Homo sapiens: one gene and its partners. The protein of the gene in region 1 interacts with the protein of each later gene in a pairwise test. Each region holds a gene or a part of one and is shown on either strand. Other genes may lie near its edges.

The links. The genes of interacting proteins can lie anywhere in the genome.
Region 2: the proteins of JMJD7 (region 1) and SH3GLB1 interact in binary tests that used the Homo sapiens proteins (3 or more experiments, as listed by UniProt).
Region 3: the proteins of JMJD7 (region 1) and POM121 interact in binary tests that used the Homo sapiens proteins (3 or more experiments, as listed by UniProt).
Region 4: the proteins of JMJD7 (region 1) and KIF1B interact in binary tests that used the Homo sapiens proteins (3 or more experiments, as listed by UniProt).

Annotation. Positions count from the first base shown.
Region 1 is NC_000015.10:41,831,092-41,834,586, forward strand, and holds part of JMJD7 (bifunctional peptidase and (3S)-lysyl hydroxylase JMJD7), read left to right. Parts: intron 1-3,495. UniProt on the Homo sapiens protein: Bifunctional enzyme that acts both as an endopeptidase and 2-oxoglutarate-dependent monooxygenase.
Region 2 is NC_000001.11:86,707,576-86,711,075, reverse strand, and holds part of SH3GLB1 (endophilin-B1), read right to left. Parts: intron 1-3,500. UniProt on the Homo sapiens protein: May be required for normal outer mitochondrial membrane dynamics. Required for coatomer-mediated retrograde transport in certain cells. May recruit other proteins to membranes with high curvature. May promote membrane fusion.
Region 3 is NC_000007.14:72,945,447-72,948,799, reverse strand, and holds the end of POM121 (nuclear envelope pore membrane protein POM 121), read right to left. Parts: intron 3,215-3,353; coding exon 3,092-3,214; intron 2,664-3,091; coding exon 2,566-2,663; 3' UTR 501-2,565; downstream 1-500. UniProt on the Homo sapiens protein: Essential component of the nuclear pore complex (NPC). The repeat-containing domain may be involved in anchoring components of the pore complex to the pore membrane. When overexpressed in cells induces the formation of cytoplasmic annulate lamellae (AL).
Region 4 is NC_000001.11:10,213,570-10,217,069, forward strand, and holds part of KIF1B (kinesin-like protein KIF1B), read left to right. Parts: intron 1-3,500. UniProt on the Homo sapiens protein: Has a plus-end-directed microtubule motor activity and functions as a motor for transport of vesicles and organelles along microtubules.

The sequences.
Region 1 (3,495 bases):
CCACCCATGGCTGCCCATGGACCAATAGGCATGTACCTCCTCCCCTGTGAGACCCATAAAAAGCCCCTGACTCAGCCAGACCAGAAGAGACGATGGGACGACCAGCTGCGGGGAGGAGCTACCCTCTCTGCTGAGAGCTGGAGAGATGACAGGACAACCTGCCCACAGAGAGGAGCTACTCTAGCCAGGGAAGCAAGCAGGCATGCCAGCTCTTTCTTTTCCAGTATTCCTGGGCCCAGTGGGGTCTTCTCACTCAGTTACAATATTTGATCTAAGAACATTCACTTTCCAACTGATCAGAAAGTAAAGGTGACTGGCATGGTGTGGCTGTGAGAGATGCAGTGTGACCTCAGAGGTGAACATCAGTGCCGGGACCATTTGGAGCAGGATGTGGTAACCACCAAATGGAAACCACGGCCTTTTGGCTCGACCTAGAGCATGAATGTAGCAAAGCGAAGCCCTGTACACTTTATAAAAACCAGCAGAAAGACACTCCAGTCTGAGTGAGCAGCTGGAACAAAGCTCTGCTGAGCTGAACACTCAACAGGACTACCTGCCTGCAGAGAGAGGAGCTATCCTCTTTGCTGAGAGCTGAACACTCGTTGGGACACCCTGGCTGCGGAGAGGAGCTGCCCACTGTGGGTCTCCTCTGAGCTATCCTATGGCTCAGTAAAGCTCCTCTTTGTCTTGTTTACCCTCTGCTTGTCTGTGTGTACCTCATTCTTCCTGGATGCAGGACAAGAATTGGGACCTGCTGAGTGGCGGGGCTAAAAGAGCTGTAACATGAAGAGGACTGAACCATGCGTCTTGCTCGCCACATTGTGGGTGTCCAGAAGGAAAGAAGAACTGCGGCCCTTTGGGGAGTCCAGACCCAGGAGCTTCCCAAGCTGGGGTTCTGACACCCTCTTTAGGGCTCTGCGGTTCCTGGTATCTGCAAGCTTCCAGGCACCACCATGCTTCCCAGTGTCAGCTGTGGAAGCTGCTTATGGTACACCTGGTCTAGCTGCAGCCTTGCAGGAAACCAGCACCTGTGTTGGCACCTGAAGCTGCCTGCCCCACCGCAGCCCACATGCCTAGCTGTGCGCAGTGGCCAAACCCCACACTCATTCGCTCACACACCCCTCGCTGCCCCACTCGCCCTTGGCAGGTGTGGGATCCAGGCCGGTAGCATGAGCTGAGCACAGCCTGCAGGGCCGAGTGGGCCCAATGGGCCCGAGCAAAACAGGCAAAGGCATCACTGGCCACAGAGGTTTCCAGCTGGTAAAGCAACACCCCAAAGATCCCGTGACAGTTTATGGCTGCGGTGAGCTATTATTGCGTCACTGCACTTCAGCCTGGGCAACAGAGCAAGACTCTGTCTCTTAATCTCAGCGAGTACAACAGGAAGATGTACTGAGCCCCAGACCACCCCATCTCTCAAGGTGACTGCTTGGATGGGCTGGCGTGACTGGGAAGGCCTTTGCCACTTTGCTGTCTCCTGGATTCCATATCTACTGGATGGGTGCCATCTTGCCTCTAGCCAGGGAAGCAAGCAGGCACACCAACTCTTTCCTTTCCAGTATTCCTGGGCCCAGTGGGGTCTTCTCACTCAGTTACAATATTTGATCTAAGAACATTCACTTTCCAACTGATCAGAAAGTAAAGGTGACTGGCATGGTGTTGCTGTGAGAGGTGCAGCGTAACCTCAGAGGTGAACATCAGTGCTGGGACCATTTGGAGCAGCATGTGGTAACCACCAAATGGGAACCACGGCCTTCTGGCTCGACCTAGAGCATGAATGTAGCAAAGCGAAGCCCTGTACACTTTATAAAAACCAGTAGAAAGACACTCCAGTCTGAGTGAGCAGCTGGAACAAAGGTACCACCTGAATAGAGGGTGTGTGGCAAGGGCAGGCACGAGACAGGAAATCAGACTGGAAGAGTAGGTTGGGCCTGGTCATGCGTGCCAAGGCAGGCAGCATTCTCTAAGGAGCAGTGGTAAGCCATCAAGGCATTTGTTACTAGGGGTGTGACAATATGAGATTGTATTTTCAGAAGATGACTGGGGCTATGATGATGAATGCTTTGGGTGGGAGTGGAATTAAGCCAGAGAAACCAGCTAGTTCACTACTGCAACCATCCAGCCAGGATACTGGAGACTTTTATTCAACATTAGGCAAATACTTGCTGAGCACATGCTATGTGCTAGGTACTGTTCTAGGTCCCAGGGGTGCATCAGTGAACAGACAACTGTCTCTGCCCTTGTGGAGTTCACATTCTAGCAAGGGTGAAAGAATGATAAACAGTTTATGTAGGTGAAATACATATATATATATATATATATATTTTTTTTTTTTTTTTTTTTTTTTGAGATAAAGTCTTGCTCTGTCACCCAGGCTGGAGTGCAGTGGCACGATGATAGCTCATTGCAGCCTCTACCTCTTGGACTCAAGTGATCCTCTGGCTTCAGCCTCTAGCGTAGCTAGGAGTATAGGTGCATGCCACCATGTCCAGTTAATTTTTAATTTTTTTGTAGAGATGGGGTCTCCCTACGTTGCCAAGGCTGGTCTTGACCTCCCGGCCTCAGCAATCCTCCTGCCTCTGCCTCCCAAAGTGCTGGGATTACAGACATGAGCCACCACGTCTAGCCCTAAAATATATAGCATGTCAGATGGTGATGAATGCTAACGAGAAAAAATACGGAAAGGGATATAAAGATTTGCAGCAGGGGGACAGATTATAAATTTAGAAAGTATAGTCAGAGAAGGAAGTCTTATCAATGTGATATTTGAGTGAGGACCCAAAGGAGGTAGCTGGAATGTGGATGCCAGTGGAGGAGAGGAGACGGTGGGTTTGAGAGACATAGGAGACAGAATCAACAGGACTCAGAGCCAATCAGTAGGATGACGGGAGTGAAGGAGAAAGCTGAGTCAAAAAGATTTTGATTAGAGGTGACACAGGGCCACTGTAGACCCCTGCGCAGGCGGCACACCACGCAGCCTGCCGAAGTGTACGTGGTGGCCCTGGGTGTCTGGAGATGGTGATGCTGTTCAGCAGGACCCAAACCATAGCCGAGCCCTTCCTTTTCCTCCATTGGTGTCATCTGGTAGTTTGTCTTCCCGGGTAAGAAGGTTGTAAATTTCTTAAGATGATGATTGTGTCATCCCTGATAGCCCCAGATTAGCCAAGCCAAGTGCTGAGCACATTCCTGGTGCTCAGTAAATGTCACTGTTAAAGGGGGCTTCCCAGAGCCACACAACACCCAGAATAGCCCGTGGCCATGGGGCCTCAGCCTTACTCATTCTGGAGCTCCCAATGCCACTTCCATGGTGGCCTTTCCTGGTAGATGCTAGGAGGCTGGCCTCTCCAGGGTGGGAAGGCATAGGGTCCACTGTGCAGACACAGCCCCACAGGGGATTTGGCTTATGGGCTGGGTAGCAGCCTCTGGCCCTGTGGACGGTCAGGGCCCATGCTGGTGTGTGTGCGTGATGCTTTCTGCTTTCATTTTTCCGTCCTC
Region 2 (3,500 bases), on another chromosome or scaffold:
TCTTTCTCCATTGGTTCCCAATTTTGGCTGTTCTTTAGAATTACTTGAGGGAGCTTTAGAAAACACTGATGTCTGGTCTGATCCAACCCCTAAGATTCTAATTTAATTGGACTGGGGTGTAGCTCATATATTGGCATTTATAAAGATTCCCCAAGCATTTTAAGTGCAGCCAAGACTGAGAACCACTGTTCTAAACTCATTCATAACTATTTAAATATGTATCGCTTGGTTTAGTGCATGCTGCATTACTTTACTTTCCTCTTTGGCCCATTTAGGAATTTCAGCTGTTATTACTGTTACTTCACTGTGCTGGAGTTTTGCTTCAAATATATTAACTGTGTTGAGGTTCTTTCAGTAAGCTGGTCTCCAAAGAATATTAAAGTAATTGACTTAGGTGTTTGATCATTTTAAATATAGTAGCAAAGCAACTAGGAGTACATCAGTTGGGTGTGGTTAAGAGTTTAGGATTAATTTGTAGCTCTGTCATTACCTTAAAAATACTTTCAAGAAAGGCCAGGCACGGTGGCTCATGCCTGTAATCCCAGCACTTTGGGAGGCTGAGGCGGGTGGATCACCTGAGATCAGGAGTTCGAGACTAGCCTGGCCAACATGGTGAAACCCCGTCTCTACTAAAAATACAAAATTTAGCCGGGCACGGTGGCGCGTGTCTGTAATCCCAGCTACTAGAGGGGCTGAGGAAGGAGGATAGCTTGAACCTGGGAAACGGAGATTGCGGTGAGCCAAGATCGTGCCACTGCACTCCAGCCTGGGCAACAGGGCGAGACTCCGTCTCAAAAAAAAAAAAAAAATTCTTTCAAGAAATATGATGAATTTAAAAGAGTTTTATAGATTTTCTAATTACCTTACTCATGTAGTACATAAGTGTAAATTTTAACATCAGGTTAACAAACTATCTTCTATCTATTTTACTAAAGTAATGCAAATAGCACCAAAGGATGTGAAAACAGTTTTAAGTAACACTAAACATGTAGAGTTTTTATATAACAAGAAAATGTATGGATTTCGAATGTGACATATTTTATTTATTAGAATTTAAGAAACATGGTGAAGTTGTCACGGTGTGAATTCTGTAAAAGAAATAGGATTTCAGAAGTGCTTGAGAGAGTTGTTTGGCCAAACTGAAACTCCAGGGAGGGTCTGACAGGAGCTATTGAACGGCAACATCATATTCATCTTTACATCCTTAGACACACCATGACACTTGCTGAAATAAATGGGAGATCAAGGCCAAGCTCAAAACTATATTTTAAGAACTATATTCCTTAGAAAATAGCTGGTGTTCACGAATTTCATAGTATGACTTTAATAATCAGTTTAGAGGAAATGTTAGAAAATTAAAATGAACTCCCTCCCTAAGTAATTTGATTTGAAAAATTCTTTTTAGAAAGTCTTTGCTCTTATTTTAATGATGGTGAGCAAGGTTTTGCTTCAATAAGAATTCTGAGTTAAAAACACATCTCTTGTTCCTTTATCCACTTGAAAGATTTATCAAATAAAGTTATTCACAAAATGGCTATTTAGTACAAATAAGATTTATGACAAGTTTGAGACTATTATTATGAAGTCTCTGAGGGCAGGAACAGGGTCTCATTCAGCTTTGTATCTTTCAACGCCAAGCACCTAGGAGGTACTCAATTTATACTGGTATTAGTTAACTTCAAGGTCCGCAAACAATGTTAGAAAATACTAATAAAGATACTGTTATTTAACATGCTTATTGTTGCCCTTCAAAGATTAAACTTCACATATGGATGGTAATTTGCCTGGCTAAAATGATATAAAAGATGAACCATGTTAGATGTTGTAAGAGGGGAATAAGAAACAGAGTTGATGCCTTAGCACATACAAACTTATTAAAGAAAGTCAGAGTAACAGAACTTTAGAGTTCCAAGAGATCTAACATAACAGTTCATTAGAAGAAAAGTGCCACCTCATCATTTGGAATTGAAAATGATTCACGATTTCACAGCAAGCTCTTGTGGTCTAAGAAGCCTTATCAGCTGAGATGGATTTGAAGCTATATCTTTAAAAAAAGTTTATTTTACTTTTATTTTAAAATTTTTTTTACTCTCTCCATTTTGGAGATGAATAAAGTTGTATCTTAAGGAAAGGAAAGAATAGGCAGACAGGACACTTAAGAGGAGTCTAACCATATGAACAAAAGCCTAAAATAAGTAGAAGATATTTTGGAAATTAAAAAATAATTTGGAATACAGTGTTTATATAAGTGAGAGAAAGGACCAGATTGTAAGGGAGTATTTAATGCTCAACTAAGAAGTTTGGACTAAAAAGATGGATTCTAAGAATAAATGGCATTTAAAACTCTAGTAAAATAACAATTAAGCAAGGGTGAATTACCTGATACTTTTGTATTTTACCATCTTGAGGTACTTAAAAACAAGCACCCAAATGGGCTAGTTAAGAATAAACATTCCTACTCATTTATACATTCTAGTCTAACATTCTTTTTAAAGTACCAAGGCTTATAAACAAATTTTAAAAGGAGGGAAGTGGAGTGGTGATGGGACGCATCTATGTGCTTTACTAGTTTGAGCTGACCTTTTTTTAAAACAAGAAACATGTTTAATTTTTAACTTAGAAATTTTTAAGTAAAATGGAAAACAATGTATGGCGTTGGCCAACCAAAGAATGGCATATTCCTTACGGTACAATTTGATTTGAATGAAAATTATTATTTATAAACGTGAATGTTTCTCTCTCTACTGTTCTTACTGCTTATAAAGAGATATTGGCATAGCTCTTAAGCTATTCTTAGCATGAAACTTGGTACTTTGGCATTATACTGATGTCAATGCAATTTAATGTAGGAACTCAGTGATGAAATAAATACTGAGATGAGAAAGCAGTGTTTTGTTGAAAACTACCACACAGCATTCCAAATTTCACATGTTCTATTTTAGAAGCATCCTTTTTTTCTTACAAATTTTATCTTTAAAAAAGTATTATGGAAAATGTCAAACATACAAAAGTATAACAGTATAATGAAACCTCATGAACCCATAACCAACCTTCCACAACTATCAACATTCCGTTGCTGTTGTTTCAGCGACTTCTGTTTTTTTCTTTTGAAATATTCAAACGCTAATCTCAACTGGTGTGGTGGCTCACACCTGTAATCCCAGCACTTTGGGAGGCCGAAGCAGGTGGATCCTGAGGTCAGGAGTTCAAGACCAGCCTGACCAACATGGTGAAACCCCATCTCTACTAAAAATGCAAAATTAGCTGGGCGTGGTGGAGCCTGCCTGTAATTCCAGTTACTTGAAAGACGGAGGCAGGAGATTGGCTTGAATCGGGGAGGCGAAGGTTGCAATGAGCTGAGATCGCGCCATTGCACTCCAGCCTGGGCAACAAGAGCCAAACTCCATCTCAAAAAAAAAAAAAAAAAAAAATACCCTGTAAAAACCAAATCTCAGATATGATATAAGTTTATCCATAAACATTTCAGTATGTATCTCTAA
Region 3 (3,353 bases), on another chromosome or scaffold:
CGCCCTGCCTGCCCGGCCCCACCGAGGCCTGAGCACGTTCCCGGGTGCCGAGCACTGCCTCCGGGCTTCCCCCAAGACCACGCTTAGCGGTGGCTTCTTCGTTGCTGTAATTGAACGGGTCGAGATGCCGACGTGAGTGAGTGGGGGCATGCTTGGGAGGCGCAGGATGGTACTGGCACATCTAACATCTACATTTCTCTAGCTCAGCCTCACAGGCCAAAGCATCAGCACCAGAACGCACACCCAGCCCAGCCCCAAAGAGAAAGAAGAGAGCAAAAAGCTGCAGCCGGTGCTTGCACACCGCCTTGCACATAGCAGAGGCTCCGGGCTCACTCCTTCCTGGTGGGAAAGGAAGATGCCTGTCCTCTCCGTGGAAGACCCTGGGCCCTCACCGCAGGCAGCAGTTTGCGTTTTGAAAGGTTATTGGGTCCCTTCCTCGGGCTGTGTTCTTGCTGGTGAGCAAAAGTGTTGCCTGCAGAAATAAAATGCAGAACGTACTCTACGATAGATCACAGTTTTTTATTCTTAATGTCACAAGCAGGAGAAAAATCTCACATTCATACTAAAAATTCCAACTAGACTCAACAGGAATGAAGTCTCTATTTGTAATGGAAAGTCCCAGCCTCCCGCTGCCGTCCAGTGCGTGTACTGTACACATCCACACTCATTCTCACTCAGGGTTCCCGGACCGGCTGTCCTGCCTGCGGAACTGAGGTAAACTAGCTCAGGTACTGACACTAGGAGGGTCTACCTTACATAAGGTACAGGTAGAAGCTTGATTGCTAGGCCCAGGCCCACCCAGACCCTCCAATCCTAACAGGTATTTAGGCTTGAGGTTCACTCCCTCCTCAGCTGCACACGCAGCCAGGTATTAACGAGGATCAGAGCTGTTCTGAGGGGTGGGAAGGAGCAGCCCCGCCACCACTCACTCACCCTCAGTCACATCGGGGAGGGGGCACCAGTTACATTTACATCACATTATTTATAAAATAAGAATTACATTTCATATAACATGGCCAGAAGGAGCTCTAGTCCCCCAGGAAAGCTGCCGGGGACAGCATTTGAGCCTCTTCTTTGCACAGGCATAACTTAACTATACAGCTAATTCCTAGTTAATAGCATTTATACTTAACCACCTCAATGAACCAAGCTTGAAGGAATTTAAAAGGCAATTTAGCTTAAATACAAAAATAAATTTTTGTTAAAAAACGTTTAAATATTTTTTTCTTTTAATTTAGACACACGCATTCATACTTCTCCCAAAGAGGTTGGGCGTGGCAGCAAGGCGCTTGGGCCTGGGGTATGTGGTTTCAGAAGGACGGAAGGAAAGGATGGGCTGCAGAGGGCCCTGTTTGGGAAAAATAGGATTTTAAAAATATGGTTCATTAATTTAGGTTTTCTAACATCTACTTTGGGTGATGTAGCCTCCAGTGAGGTCAGTTAAGTGGGACAGAAACGGCAGAGGGAAGAGGTCTTTGCTTCCCCTGGGCCCATTCTCCCTGGCTGCCAGCCCTTGAAGTCAGAACACCATGGGAAAATTCAGGAGTCGGCACTTGTAGCCGTCAAGTGGTGCTACTTTCCACATTCAATTAGCGAGGCCCCAGAAAACTTGAAACAGGAAGTCCGGCACTACCAACATGCCGCCACTCATACAACTCAACTCTTCCTCCAAACTCGATTCAAAGAGCAATACACAGAGCATCAGACAAAGGAACACAGGACAAGGCTTGAAACATACAATCCTGGAGAGGCAGACGAGGGCCCAATGGGGCCAAAGGGTAGCTGGGCGAGGAGGCAGCTGAAGCAGCGGTGGGCATCCTGCCTGCTCCAAGAGCTTCTCCCTTCACCCCTGGCTCTGCCAGGCTAACAGTCTTGAGCCACCAAGCTCTGAGGGGCCAAACTGGCAGAGGGTTGGAGATGAAACATTGATTCAGGCTTGGCAGGAAGAAAACGGCAGGAGCAGCACCCACTGGGGTCTCCAAGGCAAAGCTAGATTCAAGGGCATTTAAAAACGAAGGAATCCTGCAAGGAACTGGTGAGGGACACAGCAGCAAGAAATGGGGAAACAGAGTCCCCAGAAGGGACCAGAGGAAGAGAACCACTTCTCACAGCTAAGCCAAGCAAGATAAAGCTTTACGGATAGCCCATTTCCCAAATCCCATCAGGTGCACACCACCGATCCAGGCGGGCTGGACCCTGCCCCCTCCAGCGACGACGGTCTCGGGGAAAGGTGGAAGGGGCGCCTGCCTAAGGGTGTGCTAAGCGGGAGTCAGGGCAGCGGACACTATGTACAGGTGTTTCCTTAGTTCTCCAGCCTCCCCAGTAGAACTGTTCAAGTAGAGGTCCCGGGCTTTGGCCCTCCGCATCCTGCTTCCCCTTCCCTGAGGCTTGTGCTTCCTCCAGAAGGGAAAGGGCCCCAGGGCTGCCACTGCCCCCTGGCGGCTGAAGCCAGAGATCCGGGGTAGGTTTGCTTTACGCAACTGGAAGGGTCCAAGGCTCTTCCTAGCAGGTGCCAAGGTCCAGATTTAGGGAAGGGGTGGGGGGAACAGGGACAGGGGACAAAGGCTACTTTTTGCGGGTGTGCTGCCTTCGGGCCTGCAGTCGCTGTCGAGCCCCTGGGGTCTTGGATCCCGCACCAATGGAAAATGAAAGGGCCGCCGATCCTGGAAAGATTCAACAAGACCTCATCAGGGCAGCTGCTACCTGAGACTCTGACTCTGGGTGCCCAAATCTCTGGAAGGCCAGGCCAGTAATAAAACACAGGGTGCCTCAATAGGGCTTTCCCCGCTGCATCAGAAACACTGTACGGGAGAAGCCTCCTGAAATGCAAACTCCCAGAGAGTCTCAGAGCGAGGCCCAAGAATCCATTTTTACCTGGCTTCCCATGGGAGGCAAACTTCCACCCCGGACAGCTCCTCTCTGATCTCTGCCATCCAACTCCCATCCCTGGGTTGTGCTGGACTCCTAACCCGAAATGTCTTTCCTGTGCTGAACCTGATCTTCACCGGGCCTCAGAGGACCAGGAACCTGCCACCCCGCCCAACCCCTCCTCAGACAGATGAGCAGGGCCACAGGGTGGCTTGCTGCTTACCGAAAGGTGCAACACCAACAAAGCCTTGGGCGGGTGCTGAGGATGCCCCAAAGGAGAGGCTGCTGCCTGATGTGCCCACTCCAGGCGCAGGGGTGTTCAGACCAAAGGTGGGGGTGGCGGTGCCTGGAATGAAGAGAACAGAGAGCTGGCCAGTGAGCAGAGGGCAGAGGCAAGCGAGGAGCCGGGCAGGAGCCTGTGCTCCGCAGGGCACTTCCCACGGGACCCTCAGCCCCACTTCTGCTTCTGGGGCACTCCTCCATCA
Region 4 (3,500 bases), on another chromosome or scaffold:
GCTGCTAATCATAGTAGATCTTTTCCAGGAGGAAGCATATCCTTTTGGTCTTGTAAACTAACATGATATAATTTCATAATGCTCTGAAGTTATTTTATGTCTATTTCATGTATTTCTCTTTGAAAGATGGCCTCGTTTGAACAGGTACTGGTGAATATCTGGATTCTGTGAAACAGTGTGAATAAATATGCATACTTCTTGAACTTTTTTTGTGCAGCTTGTCAGGATAGAAGAGAAATTAAACAGATGTGACTGTGGTAGGAAAAACCTGCAAAAGGTGCCTTGGGCCGGATGCAGTGGCTCACATCTGTAATCCCAGTGCTTTGGGAGGCTGAGGCGGGAGGATTGCTTCACATCAAGAGTTTGAGACAAGCTTGGACAACATAGCAGGACCCCCATCTCTACCAAAAAAAAAAAAATCTGGATGTGGGTGGTGTGTGTTTGTAGTCCTAGTGCTTCGGAGGCTGAGTGGGGAGGATGGCTTGAGTTTGAGATTACAGTGAGCTAAGACAGCGCCATTGCACTCCACTCTGGGCTCAGACTTTGCCTGCTAAAAATAAAAAGATGCCTTGGACTTCTCAGAGTTGAACTGTTTGGTTAACGGGCCACTGATTCATTGATGCTCTTTTACTATAGGCATTACCCATTAACTGAGGGTGCATGTAGAGATTTAGTTCTTTACCTTCCAGGAACTCACACTTTACCACTTCTTTCTTTCTTTCTTTCTTTTTTTTTTTTAAGACAGAGTCTCGCCCTGTCACCCAGGCTGGAGTGCATTGGTGTGATCTCAGCTCACTGCAACCTCCGCCTCCCGGGTTCAAATGATTCTCCTGCCTCAGCCTCCCAAGTAGCTGGGATTACAGGCACCTGCCACCATGCCCAGCTAATTTTTGTATTTTTAGTAGAGATGGGGTTTCACCATGTTGGCCAGGCAGGTCTCGAACTCCTGACCTTCTGATCCGCCTGCCTTGGCCTCCCAAAGTGCTGGGATTACAGGCATGAGCCACCGTGCCCTGCCCTTTTTTTTTTTTGGGATGGAGTCTTACTCTGTCACTCAGGCTGGAGTGTAGTGGTGTGATCTTGGCTCACTGCAACCTCCACCTCCTGGGTTCAAGTGATTCTCCTGCCTCAGCCTCCCGAGCAGCTGGGACTACAGGTGCACACCACCATGCCCAGCTAATTTTTGTATTTTTAGTAGAGACGGGGTTTCACCGTATTGGCCAGGCTGATCTCGAACTCCTGACCTTGTGATCCACCCACCTCAGCCTCCCAAAGTGTTGGGATTACAGGCATGAGCTACTGCACCTGGGCTACCATTTCTATATAGAAATGGTGAGATAAAGTTAACTCCAACTCCTTTTCATTTTAGTACAATTTAGTATCCTGATATGGTTTCCGTGATTTCCAGTCAGAGCATTTTCAAAATTCTTTGTAATGTTGTATGTACATAATACTGTACTTATTATCTAATACTCAATTGGTACTTTTACATTTGTCTTGTGGTTTTTTGTATAGTGTTTGAAGTCACAAGCTTGTAAATGTTTGATGGATTTAAAAATTTATATATTTTATATATATATATATATATATATATATATATATATTTTTTTTTTTTTTTTTTTTTGAGACGGAGTTTCACTCTTGTTGCCCAGGCTGGAGTGCAACGGCGCGATCTCGGCTCACCGTAACCTCCACCTCCCAGGTTCAAGCGGTTCTCCTGCCTCAGCCTCCCTAGTAGCTGGGATTACAGGCCTGTGCCACCACGCCCAGCTAATTTTGTATTTTTAGTAAAGTAGGGGTTTCTCCATGTTGGTCAGGCTGGTCTCGAACTCCCGACCTCAGGTGATCCACCCACCTTGGCCTCCCAAAGTGCTGGGATTACAGGCATGAGCCACTGTGCCCGGCCTATTTTTTGTATTTAATATCACATTGTTTATACCAAAGCATATCATTCAACCATACTACCCTCTACCATTGCCCGTTTTTTTCCCCTTGAGACAGGCTCTTACTCTATTGCCCAGGCTGGAGTGCAGTGGCGCAGTCATGGCTCACTGCAGCCTTGACCTCCTGGGCTCAAGTGGTCCTCCTATCTCAGTCTCCTGAGTAGCTGGGATCACAGGCATGCGCTACCATGCCCAGCTAATTTTTAAATTTTTGTAGAGATGGAGGTCTCACTATATTGCCTATTGCCCAGCCTGGTCTTGAACTCCTGAGCTCAAGTGATCCACCTCAGTCTTCCAAAGTGGGAGGATTAAAGGCATGAGCCCCTGTGCCCAGCCCCATTGCTCTTTTGGATTACTATATTGTTGGCTTAGTTCTCTCTTTCATCCAGATTTTTGACATCATCTTGGCAGATGTCAATGACTATGTAAATAAACAATAACAGAAACAACAATAGTGATAAAATAGCTTATTCATATTGAGCACTTTCTGTGTGCCAGGCTTTTTTCTAAGCACTTTACGTTTATTAACTAATTTAACCCTAATAGCAGCCATATGAAATAAATACTGTTATTCCCATTTTACAGATGAAACTAAAACAGGCCAAGTGACTTCCCCAAAATCATAAGTACTAGTAAGTAACCACTATGCTGAGTTTCCTTTGTAACTACCGTTAACTGTGAAATTTCTTGAATTGAGCTCAAGCAAACATTGGCTTCATTCTGTTCCAGTTGTTTAGTGTTATGGCCACATTTTTAACTTGTCATCATGTTAAGGTCTCAAATTCACCTTCAAGTCTTAAACTGTGATAATTGATAGCTTTCACTTTCATAATCACTTTATGTGTGTTCTCCCACTCTAAGTCTCCTAAACCGTCGGCCTCTTCCAGATTTTACTTCTTTTCCTTCCTTTTCTATACTACGACCTCTGGGTTGCATTGCTTGCAGTTTTTATTCTTTCTTATTATTCTTCAGGACTTACTATGCAGAAGCCAGCCTCACATCATCCCTACCATCCATACCCTCCATTCTTACTCCGTGTCATGGAGAAACCTGCATAGTGCTGGGGATTAGTGCCACAATTAATGTGTAGTCCGAGGTCTCCCTTAAATCTGTCTTTGGTCCCTGTCGGAGCAGTTCTGCTTAGCTCCCTCCCCATTTCTCCACAGTTGCTATTATAAAATCTGGACCCCTTGACTCAAACCTGTCACTGCCCCATGCTTGGCAGAATACCTTGCCTGCCACCTCATAGGAAAAAAGGGCATGAACTCCCTGAGCTTTCCCTTCCTCTACTTACAAACTTCTCTGCCCTCTTTCTTCTGTTCTTTCCCCCAGTGTGAGAAAGAGGTTACTCTGTCTTGGCCTCTGTTAGGGATAGCACTGTTCTAATCTGTAGGAACTCGCAGTATTGGTTACTCTTCTTTTCCCTGCAGTACTTGCCCATTTTCTTTTTTTTTTTTTTTTTTTTTTTTTTTTTTTTTTGAGACAGAGTCTTGTTCTGTCACCAAGACTGGAGTGCAGTGGCCTGATCTTGGCTCACTACAACCTCTGCCTCCCGGA